Linked DNA regions of Homo sapiens. The protein of the gene in region 1 interacts with the protein of each later gene in a pairwise test. Each region holds a gene or a part of one and is shown in the gene's direction. Other genes may lie near its edges.

Region 1 (7,843 bases):
TCCAACAGATATCACTGTGAATTGAATAAATTTGTTGAAAGAGCACACAGGCACACATACACACAAACTGTAAACTAAGTTAATGAAGCCTGAATGGAAAGCAGGATCTGGCCTTACTTTGGCCTTGGCATGTCAGAAGGTATCACAACTACTATATAAGGGGAACTTGTCTGATGCCTGGAGGCTGTTGTTTATTTCCCTCATTAAAGGGGAAATCCACCTGTCTCCACAGGAAGCTCCAGATCTCCCAGAATGGGAGCTGTGTTGCCCTAGAGCAAGAGTTGGCAAGCTATGGCTCAAGGGGCCAAATCCACCTGCCACCTGTTTTTGTGCAATTGGAAGCTAAGAATGTTTTTACATTTTTAAAGAGTTGTAAAAGGGAACAACAGGAATGACAGAGACCCTACCTATGTGGCATACAAAGCCTAAAATATTTACTGTCTGATCCTTGACACAAAAAGTTTCCCCTGCCCTGGAGCAGTGGTTCTTAAGCACATGCATCAACCGGGCGCAGTGGCTCATGCCTGTAATCCCCACACTTTGGGAGGCCGAGGCAGGTGGATCACCTGAGGTCAGGAGTTCGAGACCAGCCTGATCAACATGGTGAAACCCGATCTCTACTAAAAATACAAAAAATTTGCTGGGTGTGGTGGCATACACCTGTAATCCCAGCTACTCGGGGGGCTGAGACTGGAGAATCACTTGAACCTGGGAGGTGGAGGTTGTGGTGAGCCAAGATTGCGCCACTGCACTCCAACCTGGGCGACTCCGTCTCAAAAAAAAAAAAGAAAACACATCAGAATTAGCTGGCAGGCTTGTTAAAGCACAGATTGCAGGATCCATTGCCAGATTCTGTCACTCTGGGCTGGAGCCTGAGAACGTGCATTTCTAGTCATTGCCCGGTGATGCTGATTCTGTTGGTCTTGGCACCATACGTGGAGGAGCACTGCTCTAAGGGGAAAGGGCCTCCTCCCCGAGGCCAAGGAATTCACTGCAACTTGATTTTTCTCCCCGTTTAAAAAAGTTAAAATATAACTCACATACCATAAACTTAGTCCTTTTAAAGTGTACAATTCAGTGGTTTTTAATGTAGTCACAAAGTTGTACAAGCATCACCACTAATTCCAGAATTATTTTGAGACAGGATCTCACTCTGTTACCCTGGTTGGAGTGCAGTAGTGCAATCACTGCTCATTGCAGCCTCAACCTCCTGAGCTCAAGTAATCCTCCTGCCTCAGCCTCTGGGGTAGCTGGGACCACAGGCTAATTTGATTTTTTTGATGAGGTCTCACTATGTTGCCCCAGGCTGGTCTCGAACTCATGGCCTCAAGTGATCCTCCTCCCTCAGCCTTCCAAAGTGTTGGAATTACACACATGAGCCACTGCATCTGGTCTCAGAACATTTTTCTTAGCCCCAAAAGAAACCCCATACCCATTGGCAGTCACTCCACATTCTCCCTACCTGCCAGCGCCTCACAATTCACTTCCTGTCTTTAGAGATTTGCGTATTCTGAACATTTCATGTAAGTGGAGTAATGCAGTATGTGGCCCTCTGTGTCTGGTTTCTTTCCTTAGGATAATGTTTTCAAGGTTCATCCATGTTGTAGCATATGCAATTTGATTTTAGCTGGTGTCTGAACAGAAAAGTCTGTCTTTGAGCTAGCTTCTTTAGGACAGGAGACCTGGCTTTATTTCCAAAAGCAAATAGGAAAAGGGAAACATTACCAGAGCCAGTAGAGCTTGGAAACAACTCCTGACTGATGTTCTTTCAGAACATACAATGTTTCCCCTTCCTTCTCAGCTCCTCAAGCCTCTTGGATTTCCTGTTCTCTTATAGACAACTGCTCTTTTGGAAATGTCTGGAAGGTATGTGGTGGCTATAATGTTCAGGGACATTCTAAAAAGTGGTCACTCAAACTGCATCTCAGTCTCATTTTGTAACATCTCTCTTCTTTGAGTTGGCTGCTGTGGGATGTTGAATAAGAGGCAGTTAAGGTTACTAAAAGGCCTTGGTGTGGGAAGTGCTAATCCAGACTGTCCTATCCAATAGCTCAGCTTGAGCTTTCAGGTAAAAGGAGAAAGGGAAGTTGGGGCAAAATCCCCTGTGTTTGCCAAACTGAATTGGGGTTTCTTATTTATTGAGAGAAAGAGGGTATCACTTTCTTGCCCAGGCTGGAGTGCAATGGTATGATCATGACTCATTGCTTCCTCAGCCTCCTGGACTCAAGTGATCCTCCTGCCTTAGCCTCCCGAGTAGCTTCTTTTTCCTGAGTTCGGCTAGAATAGCATGGGTAAAAGGTTCCATTGCTCGGGAGAGGAGGAGGAAGGGAAGAAGAAGAGGTATAGAAGCTTCCTTTTGATCCAAGGTCTTTTCCTCAATCCTGGCTAGAACCAGAATCCTAAAGGTTTCCTGACTACAGGTACATGCCACCATGCCCAGCTAATTTTTAAATTTTTTGTAGACAGAGGGCCTCACTATGTTTCCCAGGTTGGTCTTGAACCCCTGACCTCAAGCAATCCTCATGCCTTGGCCTCCCAAAGTGTTGGGATTACAGGCGTGAGCCACTACATCCCACCTGGGGTTTCTTAGTGATGATGAAACCTAGCCTTTATGTGGAAGACTTACAACTTTTTGAGGCCAGGAATTAGAGACCTTGTGCCATGAAAATAATTTGGTCCTTCCCTAGTACTCAATTTTTACTTCTCCTCTAAGGAGCTTGACTTGTGGAATGGATAAATTTCTAAGAAACGAGAGATTGGCAAAAATACGTGTCACTTTTTATAGTACTTGGAAAAGCAGGATCAAGATAAAGGCAGAACTATGGACTTTCTTAAGCTGAGGGAAGACTGACTTAACTCTTACCTGTTTCCCATTTTTCCAACACTTAAGCCAAGAACAACTTCCTCTGGGCTCAGATGTGGGCTAGACTGGGCCAGGCTGTAAAACACTTTGACAGGTTTTTGAGAGGAAATTGACTGCTAAAGTCAACTGTGTTATTTGCCATGGGTCTTCCTTTGTCCATTTATTTTACCAACTTTTTTTTTTCTTTTTTTTTTGAGACAGAGTCTCACTCTGTCACCTAGGGTGGAGTGCAGTGGCACAGTCTTGGCTCACTGCAACCTCTGCCTCCCAGGTTCAAGCGATTCTTCTGCTTTAGCCTCCTGAGTAGCTGGGACTACAGGCATGCACCACCACGCCTGGCTAATTTTTTGTATTTTTAGTAGAGATTGGGTTTCACAATGTTGGCCAGGCTCGAACTCCTGACCATGTGATCCGCCCACCTCGGCCTCCCAAAGTGCTGGGATTACAGGCAGGAGCCACCGCACCTGGCCTTTTTTTTTTTTTGAGACAGGGTCTCACTCTGTTGCCCAGGCTGGAGTACAGTGGCACAATCAAGGCTCATTGCAGCTTCAATCTCCCTAGCTCTGGTGATTGTCCCACCTCAGCCTCCCAAGTAGCTGGGACTACAAGTGTGCACCACCATGCTTGGCTAATTTGGCTAATTTAGTTTTTTTATTTTTGTAGAGACAGGGTTCTCTCCATGTTGCCCAGGCTGGTTTCAAACTCCTGAGCTCAAGGGATCTACCTGCCTCAGCCTCCCAAAGGGCTAGGATTATAAGCATGAGCCACCACACCTGGCTATTTTACCAACATTGATCAAGCTCTGGTTGAGCCTTGTACAGGATATTATAGGCTTTAAAAGAAGAAGAAGAAAGACCTGGTATGCTGTACAAAAAACTGCAAACCAGGCACGCAGATATAAGTGTTACAAGAATCCAGAAGAAGCAGCAAGGAGATGGGGCTAGGAGTTTGTAAGCAGGGAACTGTATCTGTAATATGTAAATGAAGTTACTGGGCATCTCTTCAATGGTCAGTGTGAGTGGAATGTGTGGGAAAATGTAGTGGTGAGAGGTGAGATAAAGAGAAGTAGACAGGGACGAAGTCACAGAGAGGACCGTGTTGGGAAGTTTGGACTCTCTATTCTGTAGGTAGATGAAGTATTTAAAAGAAGAGGCCATGATATAGTAATATTTGGTTTAATGTGGTATGGTTGTAGTGTGTGGCGGAAATTTGAGAGGAAGAATTGTCAACTTGCAGGGCAGCAGGGAAGCCATTTGTATTTAGCTAGAAGAACATGGATTGAAGCAATGGATGATGGATTTCAGAGCAATTTGTGAAGTAGAACCAGAATTTTGTCCGTCGAACTTGGGGTGACGAAGCACTATGCCTCAGATAAAGGTACTATCTTCTAGGGAATTCAAACGGACCTAAGCTGCTATTTGGGCAGTTGAGACCAAGAGAGGCATCCTGGTAATAGTGCTGTGCTTCAAGACAAAAGACATTAAAATATTTTTACATTGCAATTGTTTTCCTCTTCAGGAGCGCCTGGTTACCTTTCAGGAATAATTTATTTTCCAACACCCTTGAGAAACATTAAACCTTTTTTCTTTTTTTGATGTGGAAAACTGGAAAACTAGTACTTCCGCCACACTCAAGATGGCTACATCAGAAATAGACTTTTCCATCCACCTGGGTGGCCCCGCCCCCTTATGAAGCTGCTTCCGCCACTCTCTGCGGGTTGGGACGAATTTTACACTTCTTCGCAGCATTCAAGATGGTCCGGCTTCCTCCTACTTTTTATTGGCTGCATCGCTTCGTCTTCAGGGGAAGGCGGGACTTATATTTGATCGACAGCTACATTGATCAATGGACAAAGGGCAAAGGCCAATGAAGCGCTGGAACTGGAGAGTCTCTCGCGTGTCTGGGAGGGTGTTTTGCGCGGGGCGGGGTGGAGCAGAGCCGGAAGCGGGAGGGGAGCGTCAAACAGGAAAAGAAGGGAAGAAGGAAGAAGAGGGTAGAGGAGGAGAGGGAGGAGGAGGAGGGAGGTGGCGGCGCCGTGGCGGAGGAGCAGGAGCAGGAGGGGGATGGAGAGGAGAAGGCTCCTGGGTGGCATGGCGCTCCTGCTCCTCCAGGCGCTGCCCAGCCCCTTGTCAGCCAGGGCTGAACCCCCGCAGGTAAGGGGGAGGGGGCGTCTGGGCCATGTTGGGTCCTGGGGGTCGTCGAGGCCTGGCTGGAGGGGTCTGAAGGAGTGTTGTTGCCAAGAGTTGAGGGGTCCCGAGAGGGGCGTCTATGCCTGGCGTGGACAGGATCTAAAGGGGCGTCGGTATTTAGCTGAGGGACACCTGTGACAGTTTTGGTGTCAAGGAGGTGGCAGAGGCATGATGCCAAGCGAGTGAGGGGCGTTTGAGACGGCAGGTTGGTTAGGTGGGCTGGGGTGACTGTGGCTGGATAGCGGTGCCAAGCTGAGGATGTGGGCCTTATTCGTGTCCCTCTGTGGAGCAGGTGTCCCAGGCAGTAATGCAGTATGTACGTCTGTGTGTGTAGGGGTACACAGGCTATTGAGTTGGCCTGTGAGGGAGGGGATCCTGAGGATATTTCTTTAAGGATGGACTGGGGAAAGTTCCGAGGGCATCTTAGTACGTTTAAAAAAAATTACTATGTTCCTGGGAGAGACTTGGCCCCATTTTAAAATCTGTAAGCCATGGCGCACTTGGTTGGAGGGAGGACTCTCAGAAGGCAGGTGGGATGAAACAGAGTGGAACCCCTCAGGAGGAGGAGCACACTTGAGCTGTAACAAGCTCTTGCTGTTAGGCTGGCTGGCCTGGGAGAGCAAGTCACGGATGCTGATCTGAGCCAGCTCAGGGCTTTTGACCAGAGGGTGGTTCTGATGCCAATATGGGCAGCAAATGGAGCACCCTAGCTTTTCTTGCTGGGTGGCTTGCTCTTTATCCAGGCAGAGAAGCTTGCTTGTGCTGATTCCAGCTCCAGCTGGCATTTCAAAACCCTAATGGGAGCGTTACTCCTGGTGCCAAGTTGGGTGGGGTGCAGTGGGGGCAATCACCCCTCCTTCCTTGCATGTGGCAAAGCTTTATGATTCTTTTTTCTTCACTTTCTGTTCTTTTCCCCGTTTTTTCAGAAAGGCATACACACATAGACGCATAGCGTAGTGGCAAAGTTTATACAACTTAGCGCTTGAACTTGTGTTGTGAACAAGAGCAGAAACTGAGTGCCAGCAAAAATACTTATCTTTTCCCTAGGAGTTTTAGGGCTGCCTTTTCACAAATACATCTTGTTTTGCCCATTATCCTCTATTTTAAAATACTGATTAAAAAATAAGTTGAAATTCACATGACAAAAACCATTTTAAAGTGAACAATTCAGTGGCATTTAGTACACTTACAATGTTGTGCAACTACCACCTCTATCTAGTTCCAAAACATTTTCATCACCCCAATAGAAAACCTCGTCCCTACTAAGCAGTTACTCTCTGTCTCCCTTTTCCCCCAGCCCCTGGCAACCACCCGTCTGCTTTCAGTCTCTATGGATTTATCTATTCTGGATATTTTATATAAACGGGATCCTACAATATGTGGTCTTTGTGCCTGGCTCCTTTCACTTAGCGTAATGTTTATAAGGCCCATCCACATCGTAGCATGTACTAGTACTTCATTCCTGTTCATGACCAAGTAACATTCTGTTATCTGTAAACCACAATTTATTTATGCATTGAAGTGTCTAATTTTTCCTCAGGATATGTTTGTGTATACTAGAAATACCATGTGAAAGGAATGTAGCTCATTTTCTAGCCCAGTGTATTCCCTTTTCGAGGGTTGGGACCCTTCTGTTTTAGCCTTTGTTGGGGTTGTTTTTCCAGTGGAAATCATAAACTGGCAGAAGAAATATATTTTTTTTGTTTACTAGAAATGTTATAGCCCTCAGGACCAGTAAAGTTAAGTATAGGTATTGACAACAAAATATAGAATATAGTAAATACAGAATTTACTTTTCCTTTGCACATGTCTGTTTCTGTAAGTATCTCGAAAAGGCTGTCCCCAGTAACCAATAAATAACATCGGTAGAGGTTTGGTTTAGGAATGTCAGAGCCTTTGGAGATGGGCTGGTCAAAGATAGGAACTAGATCCACTTTTTCAGCAACGGGGATGATGGAAAGTGGAGGTTCCTACCAGGTCGTGGAGCCTGGGAGGTGTTGTGAACATGTGGAAGGGGATTGTTAATGTTATATTCTAATTGCAGTTTGCAAACCACAGGCTGCTTTCTTATATCTGTGGCACTTCTAATACTTAATTTTGGGGACAGGTGTCTTTTGTACTTTGTTCCATTTGGATGAATGCTATCACTGACCAACAGCTGTTACACGGTTACAATTCCTGCAGAGAAGGGAAAGTTTTCGTAATGAGCAGTGGCCCTCTTCCTAACCAGCCCCCACATACCCTCACTCCTGACGCTCCCTATACAATTCCATCCCCCACCTTATACTCCTGTCTCTTTCTGTCTGGGAGTACTAGATATCTATAGTGAGATTTCTGTTTTGAATTTTAACCTTCGGAATGCAAGTTACTATATAATTATTAACTCTGAATCCACCGCAATTTAGTCAGTGTATTTTTTTGGGTTTTTTTGGGGGGGGTGGGGGAAGGGGTTGCTTGTACAAATCAGTAAGGAAAAAAAAATCCCAAGGCCATTTTGGCACAGGGCATACTTTAAGTACCCATGGTCCTTAATTCAACAATGAAGTCCAGCTAACTTTGAATTCAGGAGGACTTACTATACTCATTCTGTATCGAATAATGGTATTGGTACCTTATTGCATTTCTCCCACAAAATTGATCTACTTACAATACAATCTTTTTTTTACATGCACAATCTTTTTTTTACATACACATTTACCATCAGAAATAAATGATACTAGGCAACTTGCTTTCCCTGTTACCAGCTCTGCACTGAAACAGCCATTTCTTGTTTATGCAGGCAGGCCCTGGA
Region 2 (6,893 bases), on another chromosome or scaffold:
GCTGTATCTCTCCCCTTAGAACCATTCCAGAAAATCTCTGCTCTGCCCTCCCACCTCCATGCCCTCTCAGGTCACAGTGCCTGCCTTCCAATGCCATTATGTCGTTCCTAGACCCCACTGTTCTCCAGACCTCAGACATCCAGCTTGCTGCTCCTGACCCTATCCTTCCCTGCATCTTTCCCTTCCTCAGGAAGGAGTCTCGAGGGGGCCCTTCCCGCCGGGGTGTGGCCCTGCTTCGCCCAGAGCCCCTGCACCGGGGGACAGCAGACACCCTCCTCAACCGGGTTAAGAAGCTGCCTTGTCAGATCACCAGGTGGGAAACAGCAGCGAGGAGAGGCCCACTGGGGTGGAGGGGCCATTTCAGGAGTGCTCTGGGAGTGGGCGCTCCATTGTAAAATAGCTGTCACTCATTGGGCCTAGTGCTGTATGGTTTGTGTAGATCATTTATGGCAAAGTCATTTTTATCCATATTTATGTTTGAAGAAAAGAGGCTCAGAGAGGTCTGGAGTCTCAAATGTAGTAAGTAAAGAACTGGGATATGAACAAAAGCTCCTTCAGTGAGGCTGAAAAGGAGCAGTGGGGGTGGGGTGGGGGTGGGGAGGACACACACTTGTAGCTAGGGCAGGCTCTGGTAGCATCTGTGTACCCATCGTGGCCCCTCTGCCCTGTTGTTATTCCACCTTGGCTCCGGGCCCCTGTGTGCCTCAGTGTCTGCACCTGTGATGAACCTGCCCTGCAAGGTTGCTGAGGAGATTAAGTAAGGTAACATGTTCTGAAGGGCTCCTGCCTTGCCTGGGTGCTTGAGAGCACATGGTAAATCCCAAATAAAGCTCAGTCGTGGGTACTGATGATGTCAGAAGGAACGGAAATAACCACCTATATCTTATAGTGGAACAGACACTGGGAATTTTCTTTTGCTGGGAGTTAGGAGGCAGCTTCTAGAATACCAAGGAACAGGGTGGACTTAGTGGTTGGTTGTTGACAGTGTGCTAATTAGTCAGGGAGGCAAGCCATATTTGAGGTTTTGAATTATAACCATCATTTTTTAAAGCATTATTTATTTGGGGACCTTTAATATGTTGTACTTATATTTTAACAGAATCATAATCTGATGATAACTTTGCATTTACTTATTATGTATAGACAGTTACATCATAAAACTCTCAGAATTCTGTACATACAGGATATGTGTGCACTGAGCCACAATATAAAATGTTTATCTTACAAAGGTTGCAGTAAGAAAAGTTTGCAAAACACTAGCCTGGTACATATTTCATTAAGGCTTGAAAGAGGAAAGTAAAGCTGTGAAGGTCAGGGGTAAAGCAGGCCTTACAGTCTGTGAGTGCTAGGGCTGGGATGGTCCCCAGCACAGTCCCCAGGCCTCAACAGGGTTGGGGTTTGTTAACCTGTGTTCCCCACAGCTACCTGGTGGCGCACACCCTAGGGCGCCGGATGCTGTATCCAGGCTCTGTGTACCTGCTGCAGAAGGCCCTCATGCCTGTGCTGCTGCAGGGCCAGGCCCGACTGGTGGAAGAGGTGAGGCTTCCCTGCCCGCACATCCCCTAAAGCCCTCCCCTCTCACCCCCACCCACCCCGCCCCACCCCTGTGATGTGGCCTCCTGACCCTTGCATCTTGGCCATTGCGTCTTCCGTACTCAGTGTAATGGGCGCCGGGCAAAGCTGCTGGCCTGTGATGGCAATGAGATTGACACCATGTTTGTGGACCGGCGGGGGACAGCTGAGCCCCAGGGACAGAAGCTGGTAAGAGGGAGCAGAGAGCCCAGAGGTGGGGTGAGTGTGAGGAAGGCAGTAGAGGTCTGGGGACCCCAATGCTATAGCACCTCCCTGAAGGAACCACTACTGGGGATAATCTCATGTCCTAGCTCCACGCTAAAGACCTTGTGATGTAGTGAAACCCTGTGATAGAGAAACAGATGAAGTAGGAGAGACGTTCAAGGACGAGAAACTAATATTAATAGTTACCACTTTGACAGCACTTCACACTTATATATATTTAATTCTCATATATATATGAAGCATATATATTTAATTCTCAAAAGAATCCCGTGAGATAGGTACTGCTTATATTAGCCCATTTTACAGGAGATGAAACTGGGGCACAGAAAACCTTTCCTGGACCTCACAGTAAGTGGTAGAGCTGGTATTTGGACCCAGGCAGCCTGGCCTCAAAGTCTCCTACCTCCATGAAGCAGCCGTGGAAAGAGCGCTAAGCCAGGAGTCTAGGGAGCTGGGTTCTAGTCCTGGCTCTGCCCATCTGTTATGAGAGTTCATGCAAATCCCACCATTCGTGGGTTTCAGCTTGGGGCGCCATGGCATTACAGTTTATCTGACCATAAGACTGGAGCTCAGAGAGGGATAGGGAGAGCAATCAGCATACCACACAATAGCAATGGTCACAGAAGATAACAGACCCGAAAACGAGAAAGGAAAAACATCTCCATAGTCCCCTTCCTGAAAGAGATCCAGCTGGTAATCTTCCAAGGAAAAGACATGGCTGGGTGGTCGAGCAGGTCAGCCTCTGAGGAGTATTTGTAATCCCTTTGCTTCTCCTCTTATGGACCCTGTGGAATGAGAAGCTTCCATTCCCCTTGGAGAAAACAGAAACCTGCCCTTTCCTCTTCCCTGCAAAGCTCTTCATGGGCTGCCCTCCCTGCCCAAAGGGAGTTTTTCAGTCCCAACTTGGCCCCCCAGCCCTTCCTTCCTGCCTCCTTCCTAGGTGATCTGCTGTGAGGGGAATGCTGGGTTTTATGAGGTGGGCTGCGTCTCCACGCCCCTGGAAGGTAGGACGGTGACTCAGCCTCCTTATCTCCGCCCTTTGAAAGGGAATGTCCCTGCCTCCCACACTGACCTGACCTCCCCTGGCCTCTGCTTTCTCTGGGTGAGGTTTTGAGTCTCTCAGCTTTAGGGAAAAGTCCACTCGCCATTTGCTTTGATAACCTTACATCCCTCCCCTGGCCTGTGTCCCTAGCTATTATGCTTTTCATTCTGTTCCATTCCCCCACCACACACCCCACACAATCACATGCTGCTCCCTGTGCTGCCTCAGAACCTCTGGTGTCATCTCCTATTTCTGGGAAGGCTTGGAGTTATTTGCATCTAAGCTGGGGGGTACTTCTGCTCTTCCTTCCCCCAGGGATGGAGAAAGGGCTGTGGGCCACAAGGTCTCAGTCCCTCCTCCCCCTGTGTTACAGCTGGATATTCAGTCCTGGGCTGGAATCATCCAGGCTTTGCTGGAAGCACGGTGAGACCATCTCAGGAATCCCTTCCTTTTCCTGAATTATGTCTGTTTCCCTCTGGTCAGCCATTGGAGGGAGGAGAGGGGCTGTGGATTTCTTGAAGGCGTCCCACTCACCTGAGGGCTGGGGTCTAGGAGGTTGTGAAGGCAGCATTGGGAGCCATGCCCCCATCCCCACAGTGCGGGGCTAGCAGGAGAGGAGGAGGTAGATCTCATTGTACACATCCGTCTTCTGGAGAGAACAACCTCTCCTACCATCCCTTCCTTCTACACCTTCTCTGCCTGTCATAGGTGGCTGCAGGAGGGGTCCACGTTGGGAGGGACAGGTGAGCTGGCCTTTGGTGCTGACACACTCCTGACTTTGCCCTTTCTCCTGCAGGGGGTGCCATTCCCGCAGAATGAGGCTAATGCCATGGATGTGGTGGTCCAGTTTGCCATCCACCGCCTAGGCTTCCAGCCCCAGGACATCATCATCTACGCCTGGTCCATCGGCGGCTTCACTGGTACCAGCCTCCCTCCCATCCCCCACTGTAGACACATTCATGACCACCCAGCCCCACCCGGGAGAGGTGGGGAAATGGGGTGGGGTGGAGGCTCAAGGAAGAAGAGAGAGGAAGTAGAATCTCTGAGTGGGCCTGGAAGAAGCTATCCTATTTGCATACACTTCACCTTTCCTTCCCCTCTTGTGCCCAGTCATTAAAAGGAAAAGCAGACCCAGGTCCTGGGTGGGGAGATCAGGGAAAGTGAATGTTTCCTGCCCATTATCTTCAGTGCACTATCTCCAGTGTTCTATCCCCATCCTCTCCAGATAGTTCCCTAACCAAGTGAAGTAGGTTAAGAAAAAAACAAGGGATAACATAGGGGGAATGGGGTTGGCCTATAGGGTCAGTGGGATGAGAGCATGGGTGGTGGGGAGAAAGGAGCCTTTCTCAGTTCTTACTCTTCTTCCCTGCCCTGGTACCAGCCACGTGGGCAGCCATGTCCTACCCAGATGTTAGTGCCATGATCCTGGATGCCTCCTTTGATGACCTGGTGCCCTTGGCCTTGAAGGTCATGCCAGACAGCTGGAGTGAGTGCAGCTCCCAGGCCTGCCCTTCCTGGGAAGGGGTGGGCTGGAACTGGGAACTGTTCTGAGATGGCTCCCTTTTCTTGGGTGGGGAGTAAGTCGCCCCATTGTTGGAAGCAGGAGGACTCCTTTGTCTGGGGGCCTCAGTTTTCTTTCTCCGTGAATAGTGAGGACCTTTATGTTGGGCAAGGGCTTTGTCTCTGCCATCCCTTCACCTTTATCCCACTCTAGGGGGCCTGGTGACCAGGACCGTGAGGCAGCATCTCAATCTAAACAACGCGGAGCAGCTGTGCAGGTGAGGGCCGGCCAGCGTCCGGCATTGAACACCTGCCCCCCATACAGCTCTGCTGGGCGCTCAAACCCTGAAACTAGTACTAAAGTGCAAGTTGGTAAAAGGCCACTGGCTCACATCCTGAGTGACCCTGCCACCACCTCAACTGGCCTAACCCCTCCCAGGTCCCCTGGGACTCTGGACCACCTCAGGATCTGGCAACCAAAGGGTTAAGGCCTGGCACGGCAGGGGTCTCCCAGCAGGGCCAGACTGAACCATGCCCCTTAAATAATCCCCTCTCACCCCTGAGTGAAGGGCTAGGTCAAGGGCTGTGCTATAGCAAGGGGAGGGTAAGAATGCTACCAGTGCAGGGATAGGGGTGGGCCAGTTGTCACCCGTCTCCCTCTGAGCTCTCCCTTCCCACTGCTCTGTTCTCTGAAGATACCAGGGTCCTGTACTGCTGATCCGGAGAACCAAGGATGAGATCATCACCACCACGTGAGTGCGTGGGAATCTCGGCCCTCAGGAACCCCAGAGATGGCCAGGAACTTGTCCCTTCTACCTCTGCCCACCAGAAACCTGGGTATCTAGACCCTTCCTCCTAACCTCCAGCCCCTCCAGGGTACATTCTTCTCACCCCCAGGGTTCCTGAGGACATCATGTCCAACCGAGGCAATGACCTCCTGCTGAAGCTCCTGCAGCATCGGTGAGAGCCAGGGTGTGTGCGCGCTGGGGGCAGTGTACACACACAGATACTGATACCAGCACAGGGAAGGAGGGAGGAAGGTTCAGGGATGGTGAATGAAAAAAAATCAGCCCTGACCTGTCCTGGCACTTCCTCCGTAGGTATCCCCGGGTGATGGCAGAGGAGGGTCTTCGAGTGGTGAGGCAGTGGTTGGAGGCCTCCTCACAGCTGGAGGAAGGTGAGAAGGGATCCAGTGAGGCTTGGGGCGGGGGCCCAGCAAGGTCAGGTTGCTGACTGGCTGTCATCTCTCTCCCTGACCAGCCTCAATTTATAGCCGATGGGAGGTGGAAGAGGACTGGTGTCTGTCTGTCCTCCGCTCCTACCAGGCAGAACACGGGCCCGACTTCCCCTGGAGCGTGGGTAAGGAGCTCCTGGGGCAGGAGAGAGGGTGGGAAGGGCCTAGGAAGGGGATGAATACCCAGATGTGTGGCCTATTTTGAGCGCCTCCTCTCTGCAGGGGAGGACATGAGTGCAGATGGACGGCGGCAGCTGGCTTTGTTTCTGGTGAGCTAAGGAGTGGGAAGTGGGAAGGGTTCTTGAATGGCCAGGGCTCACATAGGGGGACTGGGGATACCCTATAAGCATTGGAAGTGGCAGCTTTTGTAGAGTGGGTGGTGGATGCGGAAGTGGAGGGTGGGGAGGGAGTCCAGTGGCTGCCCCTCCCAACAGTGCTCTGTACCCCACCTGTCCCACCTCCTTTCCTCAGGCTCGGAAGCATCTGCACAACTTTGAGGCCACTCACTGCACCCCACTCCCAGCCCAGAACTTCCAGATGCCCTGGCACCTCTAGGGACCAACTGGGACTCATTATGGAAGAATGGGGTGAGAGGAGACATGAGGAAAGACCCTCTTATTTGTGATTCTCTGTGTTCATGTTGCTGTTTATAGTTTGTGGAAAGTGGGGGACCATCCCCCTTCTCACCACTGTTCCTCTTGCACGTTTCCCCTCATTCATGTGGCTGTACTTAACCTTCTCCAACATACATCCTGCATTACATGAATGGATTATTCCTAATAATTAATAAAAAGGTATTTTTTCTACTATCAGGCTAATTGTATAACTTCTCAAGTGTCCAGGGAGCCAGGGGCAGGTAGTGGGGAGAGCAGAGGCCCCAAAGAGCTGGGCTTTGGGAAACCCTAACTCTAGACAATCTAGCTAATCTAACCCTTCCCATCTCTGTGTCCCCCTAGGCCTTCAGCCCCTAACCTGAGCTTTCCTCAGGCAGCAGGTCCCCAAACCTCCCCGGTCCCTGATGTGCCTACTGTTATCACAACTGTGCAGCCTCCCTGGCCCCTCCCGCCTCCTTCTTCAGTTCTTCCTGCATACAACCACCCCAGGAGCCCATGGTTGCCCCCTCCTGCTTACGGCTCATGAGCTTTCTAGGATCCGATTTCACCTACCCAGTGCTTCTGCTGGTTTCCAGGTTCAACCTGCATGGTGTTACTAGCAGTACCCCCAATTTTCATTGCTCACCTCTTGTTATCTTGGTGAAGAGTGAGGAAGGGCCTGCTCCCCACGTCTTATGCAGCAAACCCTGCACACCCACCTTGCCAT
Region 3 (7,023 bases), on another chromosome or scaffold:
TTCGGAAACACAGTGGACCAAAGCAGTTTTGAAGGTATTGACAGGCATTTTTGAGTTAAGATAGACCTGAAATTAGTCTCTTTCTTGTCCTCATGTGTATTTTTTTTTATTTAAATAAACTTTAAAAAAATAGAGATGGGGGTATTGCTGTTTTGACCAGGCTGGCCTCAAGTAATCCTCCCATTTCAGCTTCGCAAAGTGCTGGGATTACAGGTGTGAGCCACCATATCTGGTCTCACATGTAATTTTAAATCTGCCAAGATCAGCTTCCCCCAGTGTTTCCGATTCTTCCACAGCTGGCTTTTGCCAGGCAGTGAAAAGACAACCCATAAAATAGCCATTCCAGTGGAAGTGTTTTGAAAATAGAGCAATAGTCATGATGTTTACTTCTTTTCTCCTAAAGGCTTAAACTTGAGTGTAAGTTTTATTCATTGTTGACTGGTGATATTGATTTTATCTTGGGTTCGTCCTAAGGAGGCTGGGTATGTCCACTCAGCTCCCCAGTTTTACCCAGTACCTGCTGCTGGACCACAGTCTCCCACCCTCACAGGGGGCTTACGTCGCAGTGGAATGGGTTTTCTCTTTCTCTAGGTCATGGCTTCCAGCTTTTCGAATCTGAGGCTCCAAAGGAGGAAATGACCATTCAGGGATCTTACTCCAGCTTGATTACGGAGACTGAACCTTCATAGGGTGCGCACTTACCAAGGACAGGAAGGTTTCTCTGTTTGAAGGGCTTTAAACTTATAACAAAGAAAATAAAAATGACGACTTCGTCTATCAGACGGCAGATGAAAAACATCGTGAACAATTACTCAGAGGCAGAAATCAAAGTCCGGGAAGCCACCTCCAATGACCCGTGGGGCCCGTCCAGTTCTCTGATGACCGAGATTGCCGACCTGACCTACAACGTGGTGGCCTTCTCGGAGATCATGAGCATGGTGTGGAAGCGGCTGAATGACCATGGCAAGAACTGGCGGCATGTGTACAAGGCGCTGACCCTGCTGGACTACCTCATCAAGACAGGCTCCGAACGTGTGGCCCAGCAGTGCCGGGAGAACATCTTCGCCATCCAGACCCTGAAGGACTTCCAGTACATTGACCGAGATGGCAAGGACCAGGGCATCAATGTGCGTGAGAAGTCAAAGCAACTGGTGGCTCTCCTCAAGGACGAGGAACGGTTGAAGGCTGAGAGGGCCCAGGCTCTCAAAACCAAAGAGCGCATGGCCCAGGTTGCCACTGGCATGGGCAGCAACCAGATCACCTTTGGGCGAGGCTCCAGCCAGCCCAACCTCTCCACCAGCCACTCGGAGCAGGAGTATGGCAAGGCCGGGGGCTCCCCGGCCTCCTACCATGGCTGTGAGTAATGGAAGTGCTTCTCACCCTTTGCCAGAGCAGCAGCAATGGGTGACAGGCAGGGTGGGTGTCTCTGGGCTTAGGGAGTGGTGGCCACTGCAGAGCTCGAACCTGTCCTCAGTACCCAGCTTTTGGTGGCCCAGGCAAATTGTCCTTGGTCTGGATTGAGTTTTGGTTATAAAGGGACTTTTAGTCCCTTGGCTGCTCTGGTTCAGGGATCTCTAACGCCCTTTGCTGCTCTGGGCCTCATTCTGTACATCTGGGCAGACGGTGGGCAGAGGCAGGTCTTTTCTGCTTCCTTGTCAGAATGGGTCTGGCAGCAAAGGAGTTGTCCTGCTGCACATACAATGGGGAGTTGACTCTGGTAGCCAGGAGGAAACAAATGCTCTTTCTTGATAATCTTGTTTCTTTAATCTCATATTAAGTGTTTTTCTGCTGACTGAGCTTCAGGTCTCTTGAATGGCTCAGTATTATTCTACTTCAGCAAAAAAACTTGTACAGGTTGCTAGTGTGAACAAGGCCTCCCTGCCAAACATGCAAATGAGAGTTGCTAGTGATCTGGTTGCATGGCTGGGTCTGCATTGAGTTCTGGTTTTGCATGTTGGATTAATTTGGGTCTTTGCCTTATGGTCAGAAGAGGTTTCAGGGAACAGAGTGGAGTTCAGGGCCTGATGGAAGCTGGTCTCTGTGAGTCACATTGGCATCCTGGCTGTTCATTGGAAGTGGTCCCCCAACAGGTGTTTCTCCATTTTCACAGTGCTATTCCAGCCACAGTGTGGACCCCACACTCAGAGAGACAGGTGGCCCTAGTGGCCTTTGGGGGACAGGGTGAGGATGGAGGTGGGGATTGTAGAAATTATATCTTCTGGCTGCTAAAACAAAAGTGCAGATCCCTAGTAACACTATGTCAGCATAGCAGAAAACTTCTTTTTAAAGGAAGTTGTCTGTAGTTTGACAGACCTCAGTCAACCCTTACTTAGTCAGTGTTCTGTTACCAGACCATTTACTAACATTTCCTGCTTTTGCAGGTTTCGATTTGACATTGTACCGCCACCACTAGCATTTTGAGAAATGTGTTAAATGAGAGATTTGCATATTAAAGTCAGATTTCCTGCTTCTAGGAATTCTGAATTATTACCGAGCTTGGAGCAGGTTAACATATTCTTGTCCCATATGTAGTTGTCATTTTTCTTCTTAGTTTGAACTGTTTTGCTTAAGCAAAGGTTGTGACCTTGGTTAAACCACTTGAAAACAATTTAACCTTAATCTCCAGAAGCCTCAATGCAGGGTTAAATTGCACCAAAACAAATGAAGATTGCCCTTTAAGAAGTGAAATTGTTTTATTTCTCTCAAGGATCCTCTTACCAACCCCCAGAGAGGCTCTCTTTGGATTGAGTTGGTCCCAACCTGCCTTGACTTCCTCTGTCCCTGTGACTGTGGCTGTGGCTTTGATGCAGGCCAAGGGGAGCTGCCATTCTCTTTATGTGCTTTTCATGGTCATTATTCTCAAGAAGCCAGAGGATGCTAAGCAAGGAGCTGAAACAGCTTCATGTTCCATGAACAATTTGTGGAACTTTGCAGATGCAGGGGTTGGAACAGTGGGGATGCAGGAGCCTGGTTTGATCCACCCCTCCTCCTCATACCGAGTCCAGGGCCTGTAGCCATAGGTCCTGCTGGGCTAAATGATACTGCTGCAGTTCCAGCTGTGATGTTTTTGGTTCCCTCAGACCTTACGCTTGAGCTGCATGTTCAGGGTCAGAATGTGGTCAGTGGGCTTTTCACAGCTTCCACCGCAGTGGGCTGCGGGGTTGACCCCGAGTGGCCTTGGCCCGTACCTCCTGCAGGGGCTGCTGCGCACCCTCTAATGGCGTGTCTCTCTGTGTGTGTGTGTGTGTCCCTGCCCCACAGCGCCTGAGGCCTCGCTGTGCCCCCAGCACCGCACAGGGGCCCCGCTGGGTCAGAGTGAGGAGCTGCAGCCACTGAGCCAGCGCCACCCCTTCCTGCCGCACCTGGGGCTGGCCTCCCGCCCAAATGGCGACTGGTCCCAGCCCTGCCTCACTTGTGACCGCGCAGCCCGAGGTGGGACGGCGGTTTGCTTTTTTCCTTACTAGAAATGCTGGGCAGCTTGCTGGGGGTGTGCTTGCCATGCCAGTACAGCCAACTCTCTCCCTGTCTCCTCTGGGCCTGGGGGTTTGGCCTCCAGCAGGCCCAGGAGCCCTTTCTTCCTCTCTCCTGGGAGCTTGTGGCCTGGTCGTGCTCCGCTTCCAGGATCACATGTCACTTGCTAGAAGTTCTGTCAAAGGTTTAGCAGGGGAGCTGTTCTTTGGGTAAGGCATGGGGTGATGGCCCATGCTCTCCCCATGCTCCCATTCCCTGACAAACTGGAGGGGGCTCTGCCACCTATCAGGCCCACCCATGGTGGTGGGTCAGACAACTTGGCTTGTTGGACCGGAAATGTGTGATTTAAACCTCACAACACCAGACAAATATAAGATCCTCAGTGATGGTCATTGGAAGCCATTATCCTTAATGCAGTAATGTATGCCTTGCCCTGAATAAAATGGGATTTTTTTTTTGCTTCCCAATTAACTGCTGTTCTTCCTGAAATCCCTGTTACCATGGAAAACAGAGAGTTAGCTGTACTGTCAATTCTAGGTCACGGTGTTTGAAGATACCTAATTCAATGGGTAACTAAAAATGGGGCTTCTCTTTCTACTAATTAATAATGTATCCTGATCAGAGCCTTACAACTGTAGCAGGTTAAACTGAAAACAGATTTTCACTGTTTCCTACAAGAAAATGCTCTCAGTCTACCATTGGTCCCAAGTGGGTTCTCTGCTACAGGGAAGAAAGGTGTCTGTTCTCTTCTACTCTTCTTACAAGAAGGGGCACGACAGAGAGCTTTTGTGCGACTTCCCTGATAAGGTGACCAGCCTTTATTCAGCCCTGGAAACAGTTACAGTTCATTCATGCCTCATTAATATTACAGCTTGTTTGACTTGGGTATTTGTGTAATAACTATATTTAACTCTAGGATATTTTCCTTCATGTCCCTGTTTTCCCCTAACAGTTTATACAGGATTTTGGCTTCTTCTAAACTGACATTAGAAAACGTAAGGAAGGCCAGCTCTGCACTGTAAAGAATGTAAATGATAAAAGCATTCGTTAAAGGGTCACCCAGAGGCATTGGAGTTACATGCCCATTTCACCCCCCCAGATAGTCAGAGGCTGCTGTTCTCAGCAGGTCCCGCGGAACTCTCCATGGAGTTCCCTTTTTGTTTTTCCCATGTTCTACCCATTTGGTAACTGACAAGGTCTGTTTTGAGCCTTGGTGGCCAATTTTGTGTTACCCTGGCCCTCTAGCTCTCCCGCTGGCAAACTGGCTTTCCTGGGACGTTTGCATGTTAAATACAGCCTGGCAGGCCTGCAGGCTGGCCATCTTCCCCCACTGCGGCTGTCTTTGGCCCTGCCTCTGCACCTTCGCCTGTGCCATTCCGTTCTCTCTGCTTGGATATCGCTCCCACCACCTGCCCCCTGTTCCCCCAACCTGGCAAGTTGCTTAAGGTATCCACCCCGTGTGGATTTATGTTGTCCTTCAGCCCTGATAGGAGTTGAAGATAAAAATGAGTATTTTTTTCTTTGAAGATTTCTCATGCCCCAGATGAGTTTTGAGCAAACAAGTGTTATATGGATTGCATTTCATCCTTTAACTGTTGGGTGTGGCATCCTCTCCACATCTCACTCCCTCCCCGTCAGAGGGTAGGGGGCTGTCGGAGTCCAGGGCAAAGATTCTGGCCATGTTTCTTCTCTGTTCTTTCTTGATGCTTCACAAAGGGTTGAGTATAAGGTAAGTGCTTAATCTATGCACACCAGTGGATTTGTTTGGAGCACACCTTCTTGGAAATCAGCAGTGGGAAGGTCAGAATGATGCCGGCCATTCAGAAAACTGTCAGGTGAGATGCAGGCTGTGATTCAGGAGAGATGTTTGTGAGGGGTGCATTTGGGACTGCAGACCCCACAGAGGCAGAGGAGGCAGACTGCTCAGAAGCCCTCTTCACATGAGAGCAGCCACAGCCGGGAAGGCCTCTTGTGTGACTGGCGATAATCATGAGGATGTCTGAGGAGAGCTTTCTTTCATGTGCCATATGTCATCTCATCCTCCCTGTGCCCCTCCCTCTCTCTCACCTCCCACATAGATCTGTAGATCTGACCTTGGAAGTCTCTTGAATTGTCCATCTTGTTCCATGGCCTCAATTCAGTGCCAGCCTTCTGACCAATTTCCTGCTGTCATTATCTCCCAGTCTCACCTACCCTCCATCTTCATAAAGGATGCCCTGGTCCTGAGTCTCAGCCCCTTTAGATGCCAGGCCCTGCAGGGCCATCCCAGAGCCTTTGACGTTGCAGACCTCAGTTGCTTCCACCAGCTGTGTCCCCTGCCCTCAGTCTGGGGGTCCTCCTGTTCCGGCGGAAGCATTCCAGACCTTCCCAGGCCTGCTGACGTCTGCCTGCAGGCACAGCTCTGGGCTTTCCTTTTGAAGCCTGGTCTACCTGCCCTCTGCTCTGTATTTATTGAGTTCCCATGGGGCACCAGGCACTGAGCACAGAACAGAGCCCCTTGCCCTCGTGGAGCTTATATGGTAATGGGAAAGAAAAACACAATATAAATTATTCAGCATGTTATGTAATGAGCGCTCTGGAAAACAGCAAAACAAAAACAGTCTTGCTTGAGTGTCTTTGGGGAGGTAAGAGAGGGTGGCTTGCAGTATGAATGGATCAAGGATTGAAGGAGTGTGAGGGTGAGCCTTGTGGAGGTTGGAAAGAGCCTTCCAGGCAGAAGGGCAGCTGTGCAAAGGCCCTGAGGTGGGAGTGTGCTCAGGGTGTTTGAGAAAAGGCAGCCAGTGAGGTGGCGATGAGTGACGGAGCATGGCCAGTATGTGGGGGTGGAGCGTGGCAGAGGTGGGCCTGGAGGAGGTGTGGGGCAGGGCCTCTCAACTCTGTCTGGTTGGGAGCATTCCTTGAATTCCTAGTCCATCCAGACGGGTCCTTTTGTGTCCATGTTTAGATGTTGTGCCGATGTCATTGCTAGGAGCTTTTGAAACACTTTCACTGTGCTTACCTTGCAGACCATGCACTCAGTGGCCCGGTGCTGGGCCTTCTGGGTTTATGTCAGAAATTTCTTTGACTTTCACTCACAGTGAGATGGGGGAAGATGAGGGTTAGGAGGATCCCTTGGGGTGTGTATGGGCAAGGTGGGAGCAGGGAGCCAGGTCAGGAGGCCACTGTCCCCATCCAGGTGGGAGATGGTGGGGGTCTGGACCTGGCAGGGCTGCAGAAATCTGGGCAGTAGCCAGGTTCTGGGTATGTTTTTTTTTTTTTTTTTTTTTTTTTTTTGAGACAGAATCTTGCACTGTCACCCAGGCTGGAGTGCAGTGGCACGATCTCCGCTTACTGCAAGCTCTGCCTCCCGGGTTCACGCCATTCTCCTGCCTCAGCCTCCCAAGTAGCTGGGACTACAGGCGCCCGCCACCACGCCCGGCTAATTTTTTGTATTTTTAGTAGAGATGAGGTTTCATCATGTTAGCCAGGATGGTCTTGATCTCCTGACCCCGTGATCCGCCCACCTTGGCCTCCCAAAGTGCTGGGATTACAGGTGTGAGCCACCGCACCTGG
Region 4 (7,023 bases), on another chromosome or scaffold:
AATAAGGTCAGAAAGAGACCACTGAGCCCCAATCCCCTCTTTTCTCTTCTGACTATTTCTGGTAGTTTTTGGCCCATTTAGTCACATGGTGGGATTGCCAGCCATTGTGCGTTGAGGACGTATCAATAGAGGCAAGATTCACTAGGAAAAGGAGAAGACCATGAGCTCTGCTCCATGTCACTTGGTTCCTGCTTCTCTGGGGGCATCCAATTCCAGCTTTTGGAGAGAGCAGAATGGTGATTATTATTATGGGAAGGGACCTGGACACCAACCATGGCTTGGGAGGGACAGTGGGAGTGAAAATAGGCTCTGAAGCCACAGGGATGGAGGTTCAGATTCTGGCTTAGCCACCTAATAGCTGTGTGAGTAGGTGACTTCATCTTTCTGGACCTCAGATTCCTCTTCTGTAAAATGAGAGTGATAATCTGTGCCTCCTGGCCTGGCTGCGAGGATGCAGTGACATCTTTTAAAGGTAGGCGGTAGAAGGTGTTCAGTAGCTATAGTTATCACAATTAGCCGGTAGGCGAAATATCTGAAGCGCTGTCTGGAGGCAGAGGAGCAGGAGTGTTCTCCTGGAGTTTCTGAGTCAGGGAGACAAGGTGGAAGGGACCTCTGATGGACAGATCTGGACATGTGAGCAGATGCAGGATGTGTCTGGAGGAGGTCAGACTCCATGGGGAGGGTCACAGTGGATGTCCTTGTGATCCTTGCCTGCCTGGGAGCTATCTCAGGAGCCTGGCCCCTCCCTCACAGCCACCCTTCCTCTCCATCTCTCTATCTCCTACAGGTGCTGGGCCCCAAGCCGGCTCTGCCTGCAGGTACCGAGGACACCGCCAAGGAGGATGCGGCCAACCGCAAGCTGGCCAAGCTCTACAAGGTGAGCACCAGATGCACTGTCTGCCTGGGCATGGGGTCAGGACAGGGAGGTGGAAGACTTGGTCTTCCCCACTCCACTGCTATGGGACCTTGAGCAAAGCACCCCTTTGGAGGGGGGCCTCAGCTTTCTCACGTCTCCAGTGGATGCTCGTGTACTTCCTTTGCTTTCCTGCACTAAGAGCATGCGATCAACTCCGTACATATCTGTGTCACGCTCATACATGAGGTCTCTCTGAGTCTCAGTGTCCTAGTCTGTAAAGTGGGAAGAAGAGCAGAATGGTCGACTTTGTAGGATTTCTGGGAGTCCACAGATAAAATGGATGTGAAAACAGCTTAGAAAATACTTGGGGAAATACTACAGAAATGGTGTGTATGTGGGGAGGTTGGGGGTGTGGGTTATAGTTAATGACTTTATTTATGATTTCTTTCTTGTGATTTTCACAACTGAATTCAGGCTTAGCTTCAGCTAGGGAACTCTCTTGGCTGAGCTCTGGGAGAAAGCTCAATCACACTTACGTTGTGCCCCAAGTATTTTCAGTAAAACAACAAAAAGGGGATGTCGATTTTCACCACTGCCAAAGAAAAACTACTACATTATCGATTTTTTTTCTGATTATGAAGTAATACATGTTTATTGTAAGAAAAAAAAGTATTCAAAATATAAAAAGAAAATAAAAGTCCATGCAATTTCACTGGTTTAAAAAACCAGTATTACTTTTAAAATATGTTTTAATTACAAAAATGACAATACCCAGTTAAAAAATCAGCCTCTCCTCCTCATGAGAGAACACATCTTTGTCCAGCCACAGCTTTCTGTGCCTAGTTACTTTTCCATTTCCATCTTATTATTTTATTTTGAGATAGGGTCTTGCTCTGTCACCCAGGCTGCAGTACAATGGCACAATCACAGCTCACTGCAACCTCTGCCTACCGGGCTCAAGCGATCTCTTGCCTCAGCCTCCTAAGTGGCTGGGACTACAGATGTACGCCACCACGCCCAGCTAACTTTTGTATTTTTTGTAGAGACGAGGTTTTGCCATGTTGCCCAGGCTGGTCTCAAACTCCTGGGCTCATGTGATCTGCCCACCTCAGCCTCCCAAAGTGCTGGGATTACAGACCTGAGCCAACGCTCCCGGCCATTTCTATTTTGTGTAACTGGATCCAAACTATTCATGCTGTTGTGTGGTCTTTTTTCCACTCAACATGGTCGGGAATATCTTTCTATAATAAATCTCAACACGACCCTTTATAACAGCTGTATAGTATTTTATTTTATGAATGTAAGAATTTAAGCAAATCCTGATTGATGGACATTAGGATGTTCCACCTTTTCCAGTTGCAGACAGTCCCTCTTGGTGCACTTGTGCTAAGTACAGCATAGCACTAGGGCAAGTTCCTAGACAAGGAACTGCTGGTCACAGGCCGAAGAATGAGTCAGTAGTTGAAAATACTGGTTCTGGGCCAGGCATGGTGGCTCACCCCTGTAATCCCAGCACTTTGAGAGGCCGAGGTAGGCGGATCACCTGAGGTCAGGAGTTCGAGACCAGCCTGGCTAACATGGTGAAACACTGTCTCTACTAAAAATACAAAATATTAGCCAGGCGTGGTGGCGGGTGCCTCTAATCCTAGCTCTCCTCCTAAGGGAGGAGAATCACTTGAACCCGGGAGGCGGAGGTTGCAGTGAGCTGAGATAGTGCCATTGCACTCCAGCCTGGGCGACAACAGTGAGACTCCGTCTCAAAAATAATAATAATAAATAAAATAAAAAAAGAAAATACTGGTTTTGGAGTCAGGAGTCAGACTACCTGTGTTTGAATTCCAGGTCAGCTATTTCTAGCTGTGCAAGTTCCTTAACCACTCTGTGCCTTGGTTTCCTTGTGAATGAGACAGGGATAGTAACAGAACTATCATATGCAAGGATTAAAGGGGTTCTATAATTATACAAGTTATAGAAATTGCTTAGAACAGTGACTGGCACAGAGTAGTAAGTACTCAATTCATGTAGAATAATTATTATTTAAAGGACTGCTACCTCACAGTCAACTGTACTCTGGAACAGCTCCCAAATTACTGTCATCAGGGATCTTAAATGCCTGTTTACCCAGAGCCTTGCCAACTGGATATTGTTAAACTTTTGAATTTTGACTCTTAAGATAGAACTTTTTTTTGAGCTTGGTTGAACTTTTTATTTTAGAATAATTTTTAAGTTTACAGAAAAATTGTAAAGATAGTACAAAGAGTTCCTATATACCATTCACTCAGCTTCTCCTTAGCATCTTAGCATAACCAGGTACATTTGTCAAAACTAAGAAATTAACATTGCTTCAGTACCATTAACTAAACTATAGACTTTAGCCAGATTTCCCCAGTTTTTTATTCTAGGTTCCAATCCAGGATACCAGATTGCATTTAGCTCTTTTTACTTTTCTTTTTCTTTTCTTCTCTTTTATTTACTTATTTATTTTTGAGACAGAGTCTGGCTCTGTTACCCAGGCTGGAGTGTAGTGACGCAATCATAGCTCACTATAGCCCCGACATCCTGGGCTCAAGTGATCCTCCCACTTCAGCCTCCCAAGTAGCTGGGGCCACAAGCAAGCGCCACCACACCTTGCTACTTTTTGTATTTTTTGTAGAGATGGGATCTTGCCATGTTGCCCAGGCTGGTCTTGAACTCCTGGGCTCAAGCCATCCACCCACCTGGGCCTCCCAGAGCGCTGGGATTAAAGGTGTGCGACACTGTAACCGGCCTCTTCTCTTTTTTTTGAATAGTAAAGTTGAATACATTTTCAGCAAACTATGCAGTTCCCCTCTGCACCCAATTCCCCAAATTTTATCCCGCCCTCCCTTCCCATGTGCAGTTTGTGTTACCCCTGCGTGTAGGTCAGCAGATGTGGTTCTGACAAAGCAGAAAACGAAAAAGAACCTCTAAATGTGTGCGAGAGGAAGCCCAGGTGTTACTCTACAGGGCCATTTGGGACAGGGGGTGGGGCAAGATGGTGGAAGTCTCAGGGCTGGGCGGCCACAGACACTCATGTGCTGGTTCCTTCTGCTTCGTCCCCTCAGGTCTCCAATGGTGCAGGGACCATGTCCGTCTCCCTCGTGGCTGATGAGAACCCCTTCGCCCAGGGGGCCCTGAAGTCAGAGGACTGCTTCATCCTGGACCACGGCAAAGATGGGAAAATCTTTGTCTGGAAAGGTACTGGAGACAGGGAAAGGGTCCCAACTGGCCTGTAGGATCTTGGATGGGATGTTCTGCAGCTCCCAGGAACTCAGCTCCCGGGGAGTGTGGAGTGTGCCTGGTGCAATGGAAATCAGAAGTCTTGGGCTGAGGCCTTGGTTTTGCATTTGACATACTGTGTGATCTTGGGCACTTTACTTACCCTTTCTGGGCCTCAGATTCCTGATCTGGGCTAAAATGGGTGTTTCCCAAGTGCATTATAACGTCAGTTCTCTGAGAGGCTAATTGGCATCCTGTAGAAATTATGTAGAAAACATCTAACTGTATGGTCAGATAAATTCATGGGCAACAGTGGATTTTAAAATGTTCGAGTTTGTTTACTGTAGGACTTTTAACTTGTTCATTTACAGGGGGGCTTTTCATGAAGATGATCTGGTTTGGGAAATGCTAAGCTAGAAGTTCATAAACTCTTTCGGTACTATCTTGTGGGAATTCTCTTGGAAACCATTGGCCCAGATGTTTCCCAGAGGCCCTGAGATGTTCTGAGAGGACCCATCAATATCCTCCCCTGATTCTCTAAGGCTCATCTTGGGGAAGAGGACAGAGGAGAGGGAGGCAGTAGGAGGACAGAGAGAAAGGGAGACGGTGGGGAGAAAGAGAGAGAGAGAGACACTATTATGATTATTACTCTCTAGGCCCCCTGGGCCCTGGGCCAGCTGATCTGGACCTTGGCCTTGGCAGTGAGAAGGCTGGGACTGAGGCCCAGCACTGGCTGGCCAGGAGCTCCTTGGCACGGGAATGCCCTCAGGGTGGCAGCTTCTCACTCACTGAGTAACCTAGGTCAAGTAATTTAATCTCTCTAAGACCCTAGCTTCCTTATAGATACTCAGAAAAAGATAACAACTTTTTTTATTACTTAAGACTATTCTGTGAATTAAATAATCTATGCATAGTTCTAAGCACAAAATACATGCTCACTAAATGGACCACAGTAGTGTTGTGATTGGTGTCACTGGCCAGCCCCAGGCTGGACACCAGGAGCTCTAGTGAGTGGTCGGCTCTGGGGGTCTCTGGCCTTGGCTGTCCACAGTCTAAGAAGAGTAGGGAGGGAAGTTTGGCAGCTCCTTCTCCTGGACTGTTAAAGGTCAGGATGCAGCAGGATCCCGGGCCTCTAACCCTCCATCACTTCCTCTGGCTGCCAACAGGCAAGCAGGCAAACACGGAGGAGAGGAAGGCTGCCCTCAAAACAGCCTCTGACTTCATCACCAAGATGGACTACCCCAAGCAGACTCAGGTGAGTCTTGGAGGCCAGGTAGGATGGGAAGGGGTGGGTCCTGTTTGGAGGGGATGGGCTGGAGTAGGGCGGGTGTCCCACCCTCAGTGTGGATGGGGTATCTGAGGCTCCCCTGGGGACCCCTGCTGGGCAGCCCAGCCACATCCTGCTCCTCTGCCTCCCCTCCCCAGGTCTCGGTCCTTCCTGAGGGCGGTGAGACCCCACTGTTCAAGCAGTTCTTCAAGAACTGGCGGGACCCAGACCAGACAGATGGCCTGGGCTTGTCCTACCTTTCCAGCCATATCGCCAACGTGGAGCGGGTGCCCTTCGACGCCGCCACCCTGCACACCTCCACTGCCATGGCCGCCCAGCACGGCATGGATGACGATGGCACAGGCCAGAAACAGGTACGTTTAGGGCGTGGGGTGGGTGTGTCCAGGCCCCTCCCTCACTTTCCCCATGCACTGCCTCTTGCTTCCCCAAGGAGGTTTCTCTCTGAGGTTTGCACAACTTTGGTAGCTGAGATTCTTTGGTGTTACTTAGTTTTTACAGCCAATGCACCCTGTGTATCAGGCCCTGAGCCAAGTGTCTTGGCCCCACCTTGCCCCGAGGAGTGCCTGGTCTGGGAGGGGAGTTGACCATAGCCACAGACCTGTGTGATCAGTGGAAGATGGGAGGGAGCACAGGGGATTGTGCAGACACAGGAAGCAGTGGGGGTGGTTGGTCAGGGCAGCCTGCACAGAGATGGGAACCTTTGGGTTGGGTCTCAGAGGAGGAGTAGAGCTTTGCTGCCGGAGAGGAAGAGCGGAGAGTGATGGGCATTCCAGGAGGGACTCGCTATGTTCGGAAAGGAGGGAGCTATCCCAGGGGGCTAGTGCTGATGGCATCCCCAGGGAGGGGCCTTGAATGCCAATTTCAAGGGTGTAGACTTGATCCTCTAACCAGTGGGTGCTAGTGAGGGGTTTTTCTTTTTATTAAATCAGACATGCAACAGGCTCAGATTTATGCTTTATCTTTTTTTTTTTTTTTAATAGAGACAGGGTCTCGCTATGTTGCCCGGGCTAATTTCAAACTCCTGGGCTCAAGCAATCCTCCTGCCTCGGCCCCCCAAAGTGTTGGAATTACAGGCATGAGCCACTGCGCCCGGCCACCTGCTTTAGAAACTCACTGTGAAAATGGGTTGGAATATGACTCCAGGATATCATTAGAAGAAAAAAATCAGTTAAAAAATAAATAAAAGAAAAATAAAAAGAAAACTAAGAAAATGGATTGGAGGCAGGAAAATGAAGGTAGAGAGCTTATAAGGAGCTTGTTCTAATACTGTAGGGGAAAGATGATGACCTTGAGACTAAGAAGGTCACAGTGGAGAAGGGGAAGAGGGGTGTGGGGTTCAGAGGTGTTTAGGAGGTAGAATCCGCCTCAGGCAAACTTGACTCCGTTCCTAATGATAGGAATAACAAAGTGTTCATTTTTATATATTATTGTTTTTGGTTTGGTGCTAGCATTCATTTGTTGCTTCAGTGGCTAGGGAGAATGCAATGAAAATATTTCGGGTGGGGCGGTGTGGTAAGACCCCTGGCAGCCTGACTGTGAGACTTTGGGCAAGTTACATAACCTCTTTGAGCTTCACTTTCTCACTTGTAAAGTGGGGTTTCATCCCACTCCATCACCTTCAAGAATGTTCAAAATCCAGAGA

The links.
Region 2: the proteins of WBP1L (region 1) and ABHD16A interact in binary tests that used the Homo sapiens proteins (3 or more experiments, as listed by UniProt).
Region 3: the proteins of WBP1L (region 1) and EPN2 interact in binary tests that used the Homo sapiens proteins (3 or more experiments, as listed by UniProt).
Region 4: the proteins of WBP1L (region 1) and GSN interact in binary tests that used the Homo sapiens proteins (3 or more experiments, as listed by UniProt).

What each region holds. Positions count from the first base shown.
Region 1 is NC_000010.11:102,739,128-102,746,970, forward strand, and holds the start of WBP1L (WW domain binding protein 1-like isoform 1 precursor), read left to right. Parts: upstream 1-4,820; 5' UTR 4,821-4,926; coding exon 4,927-5,016; intron 5,017-7,843.
Region 2 is NC_000006.12:31,686,447-31,693,339, reverse strand, and holds the end of ABHD16A (phosphatidylserine lipase ABHD16A), read left to right. Parts: intron 1-190; coding exon 191-313; intron 314-1,421; coding exon 1,422-1,536; intron 1,537-1,659; coding exon 1,660-1,761; intron 1,762-2,023; exon of another isoform or gene 2,024-2,582; intron 2,583-2,737; coding exon 2,738-2,801; intron 2,802-3,212; coding exon 3,213-3,262; intron 3,263-3,373; exon of another isoform or gene 3,374-3,635; coding exon 3,636-3,759; intron 3,760-4,220; coding exon 4,221-4,325; intron 4,326-4,553; coding exon 4,554-4,617; intron 4,618-5,034; coding exon 5,035-5,091; intron 5,092-5,236; coding exon 5,237-5,299; intron 5,300-5,439; coding exon 5,440-5,516; intron 5,517-5,599; coding exon 5,600-5,698; intron 5,699-5,795; coding exon 5,796-5,842; intron 5,843-6,044; coding exon 6,045-6,128; 3' UTR 6,129-6,385; downstream 6,386-6,893. UniProt on the Homo sapiens protein: Phosphatidylserine (PS) lipase that mediates the hydrolysis of phosphatidylserine to generate lysophosphatidylserine (LPS). LPS constitutes a class of signaling lipids that regulates immunological and neurological processes.
Region 3 is NC_000017.11:19,282,359-19,289,381, forward strand, and holds part of EPN2 (epsin-2), read left to right. Parts: intron 1-591; 5' UTR 592-761; coding exon 762-1,356; intron 1,357-3,261; coding exon 3,262-3,432; intron 3,433-7,023. UniProt on the Homo sapiens protein: Plays a role in the formation of clathrin-coated invaginations and endocytosis.
Region 4 is NC_000009.12:121,313,147-121,320,169, forward strand, and holds part of GSN (gelsolin), read left to right. Parts: intron 1-787; coding exon 788-877; intron 878-3,939; coding exon 3,940-4,072; intron 4,073-5,259; coding exon 5,260-5,348; intron 5,349-5,518; coding exon 5,519-5,734; intron 5,735-7,023. UniProt on the Homo sapiens protein: Calcium-regulated, actin-modulating protein that binds to the plus (or barbed) ends of actin monomers or filaments, preventing monomer exchange (end-blocking or capping).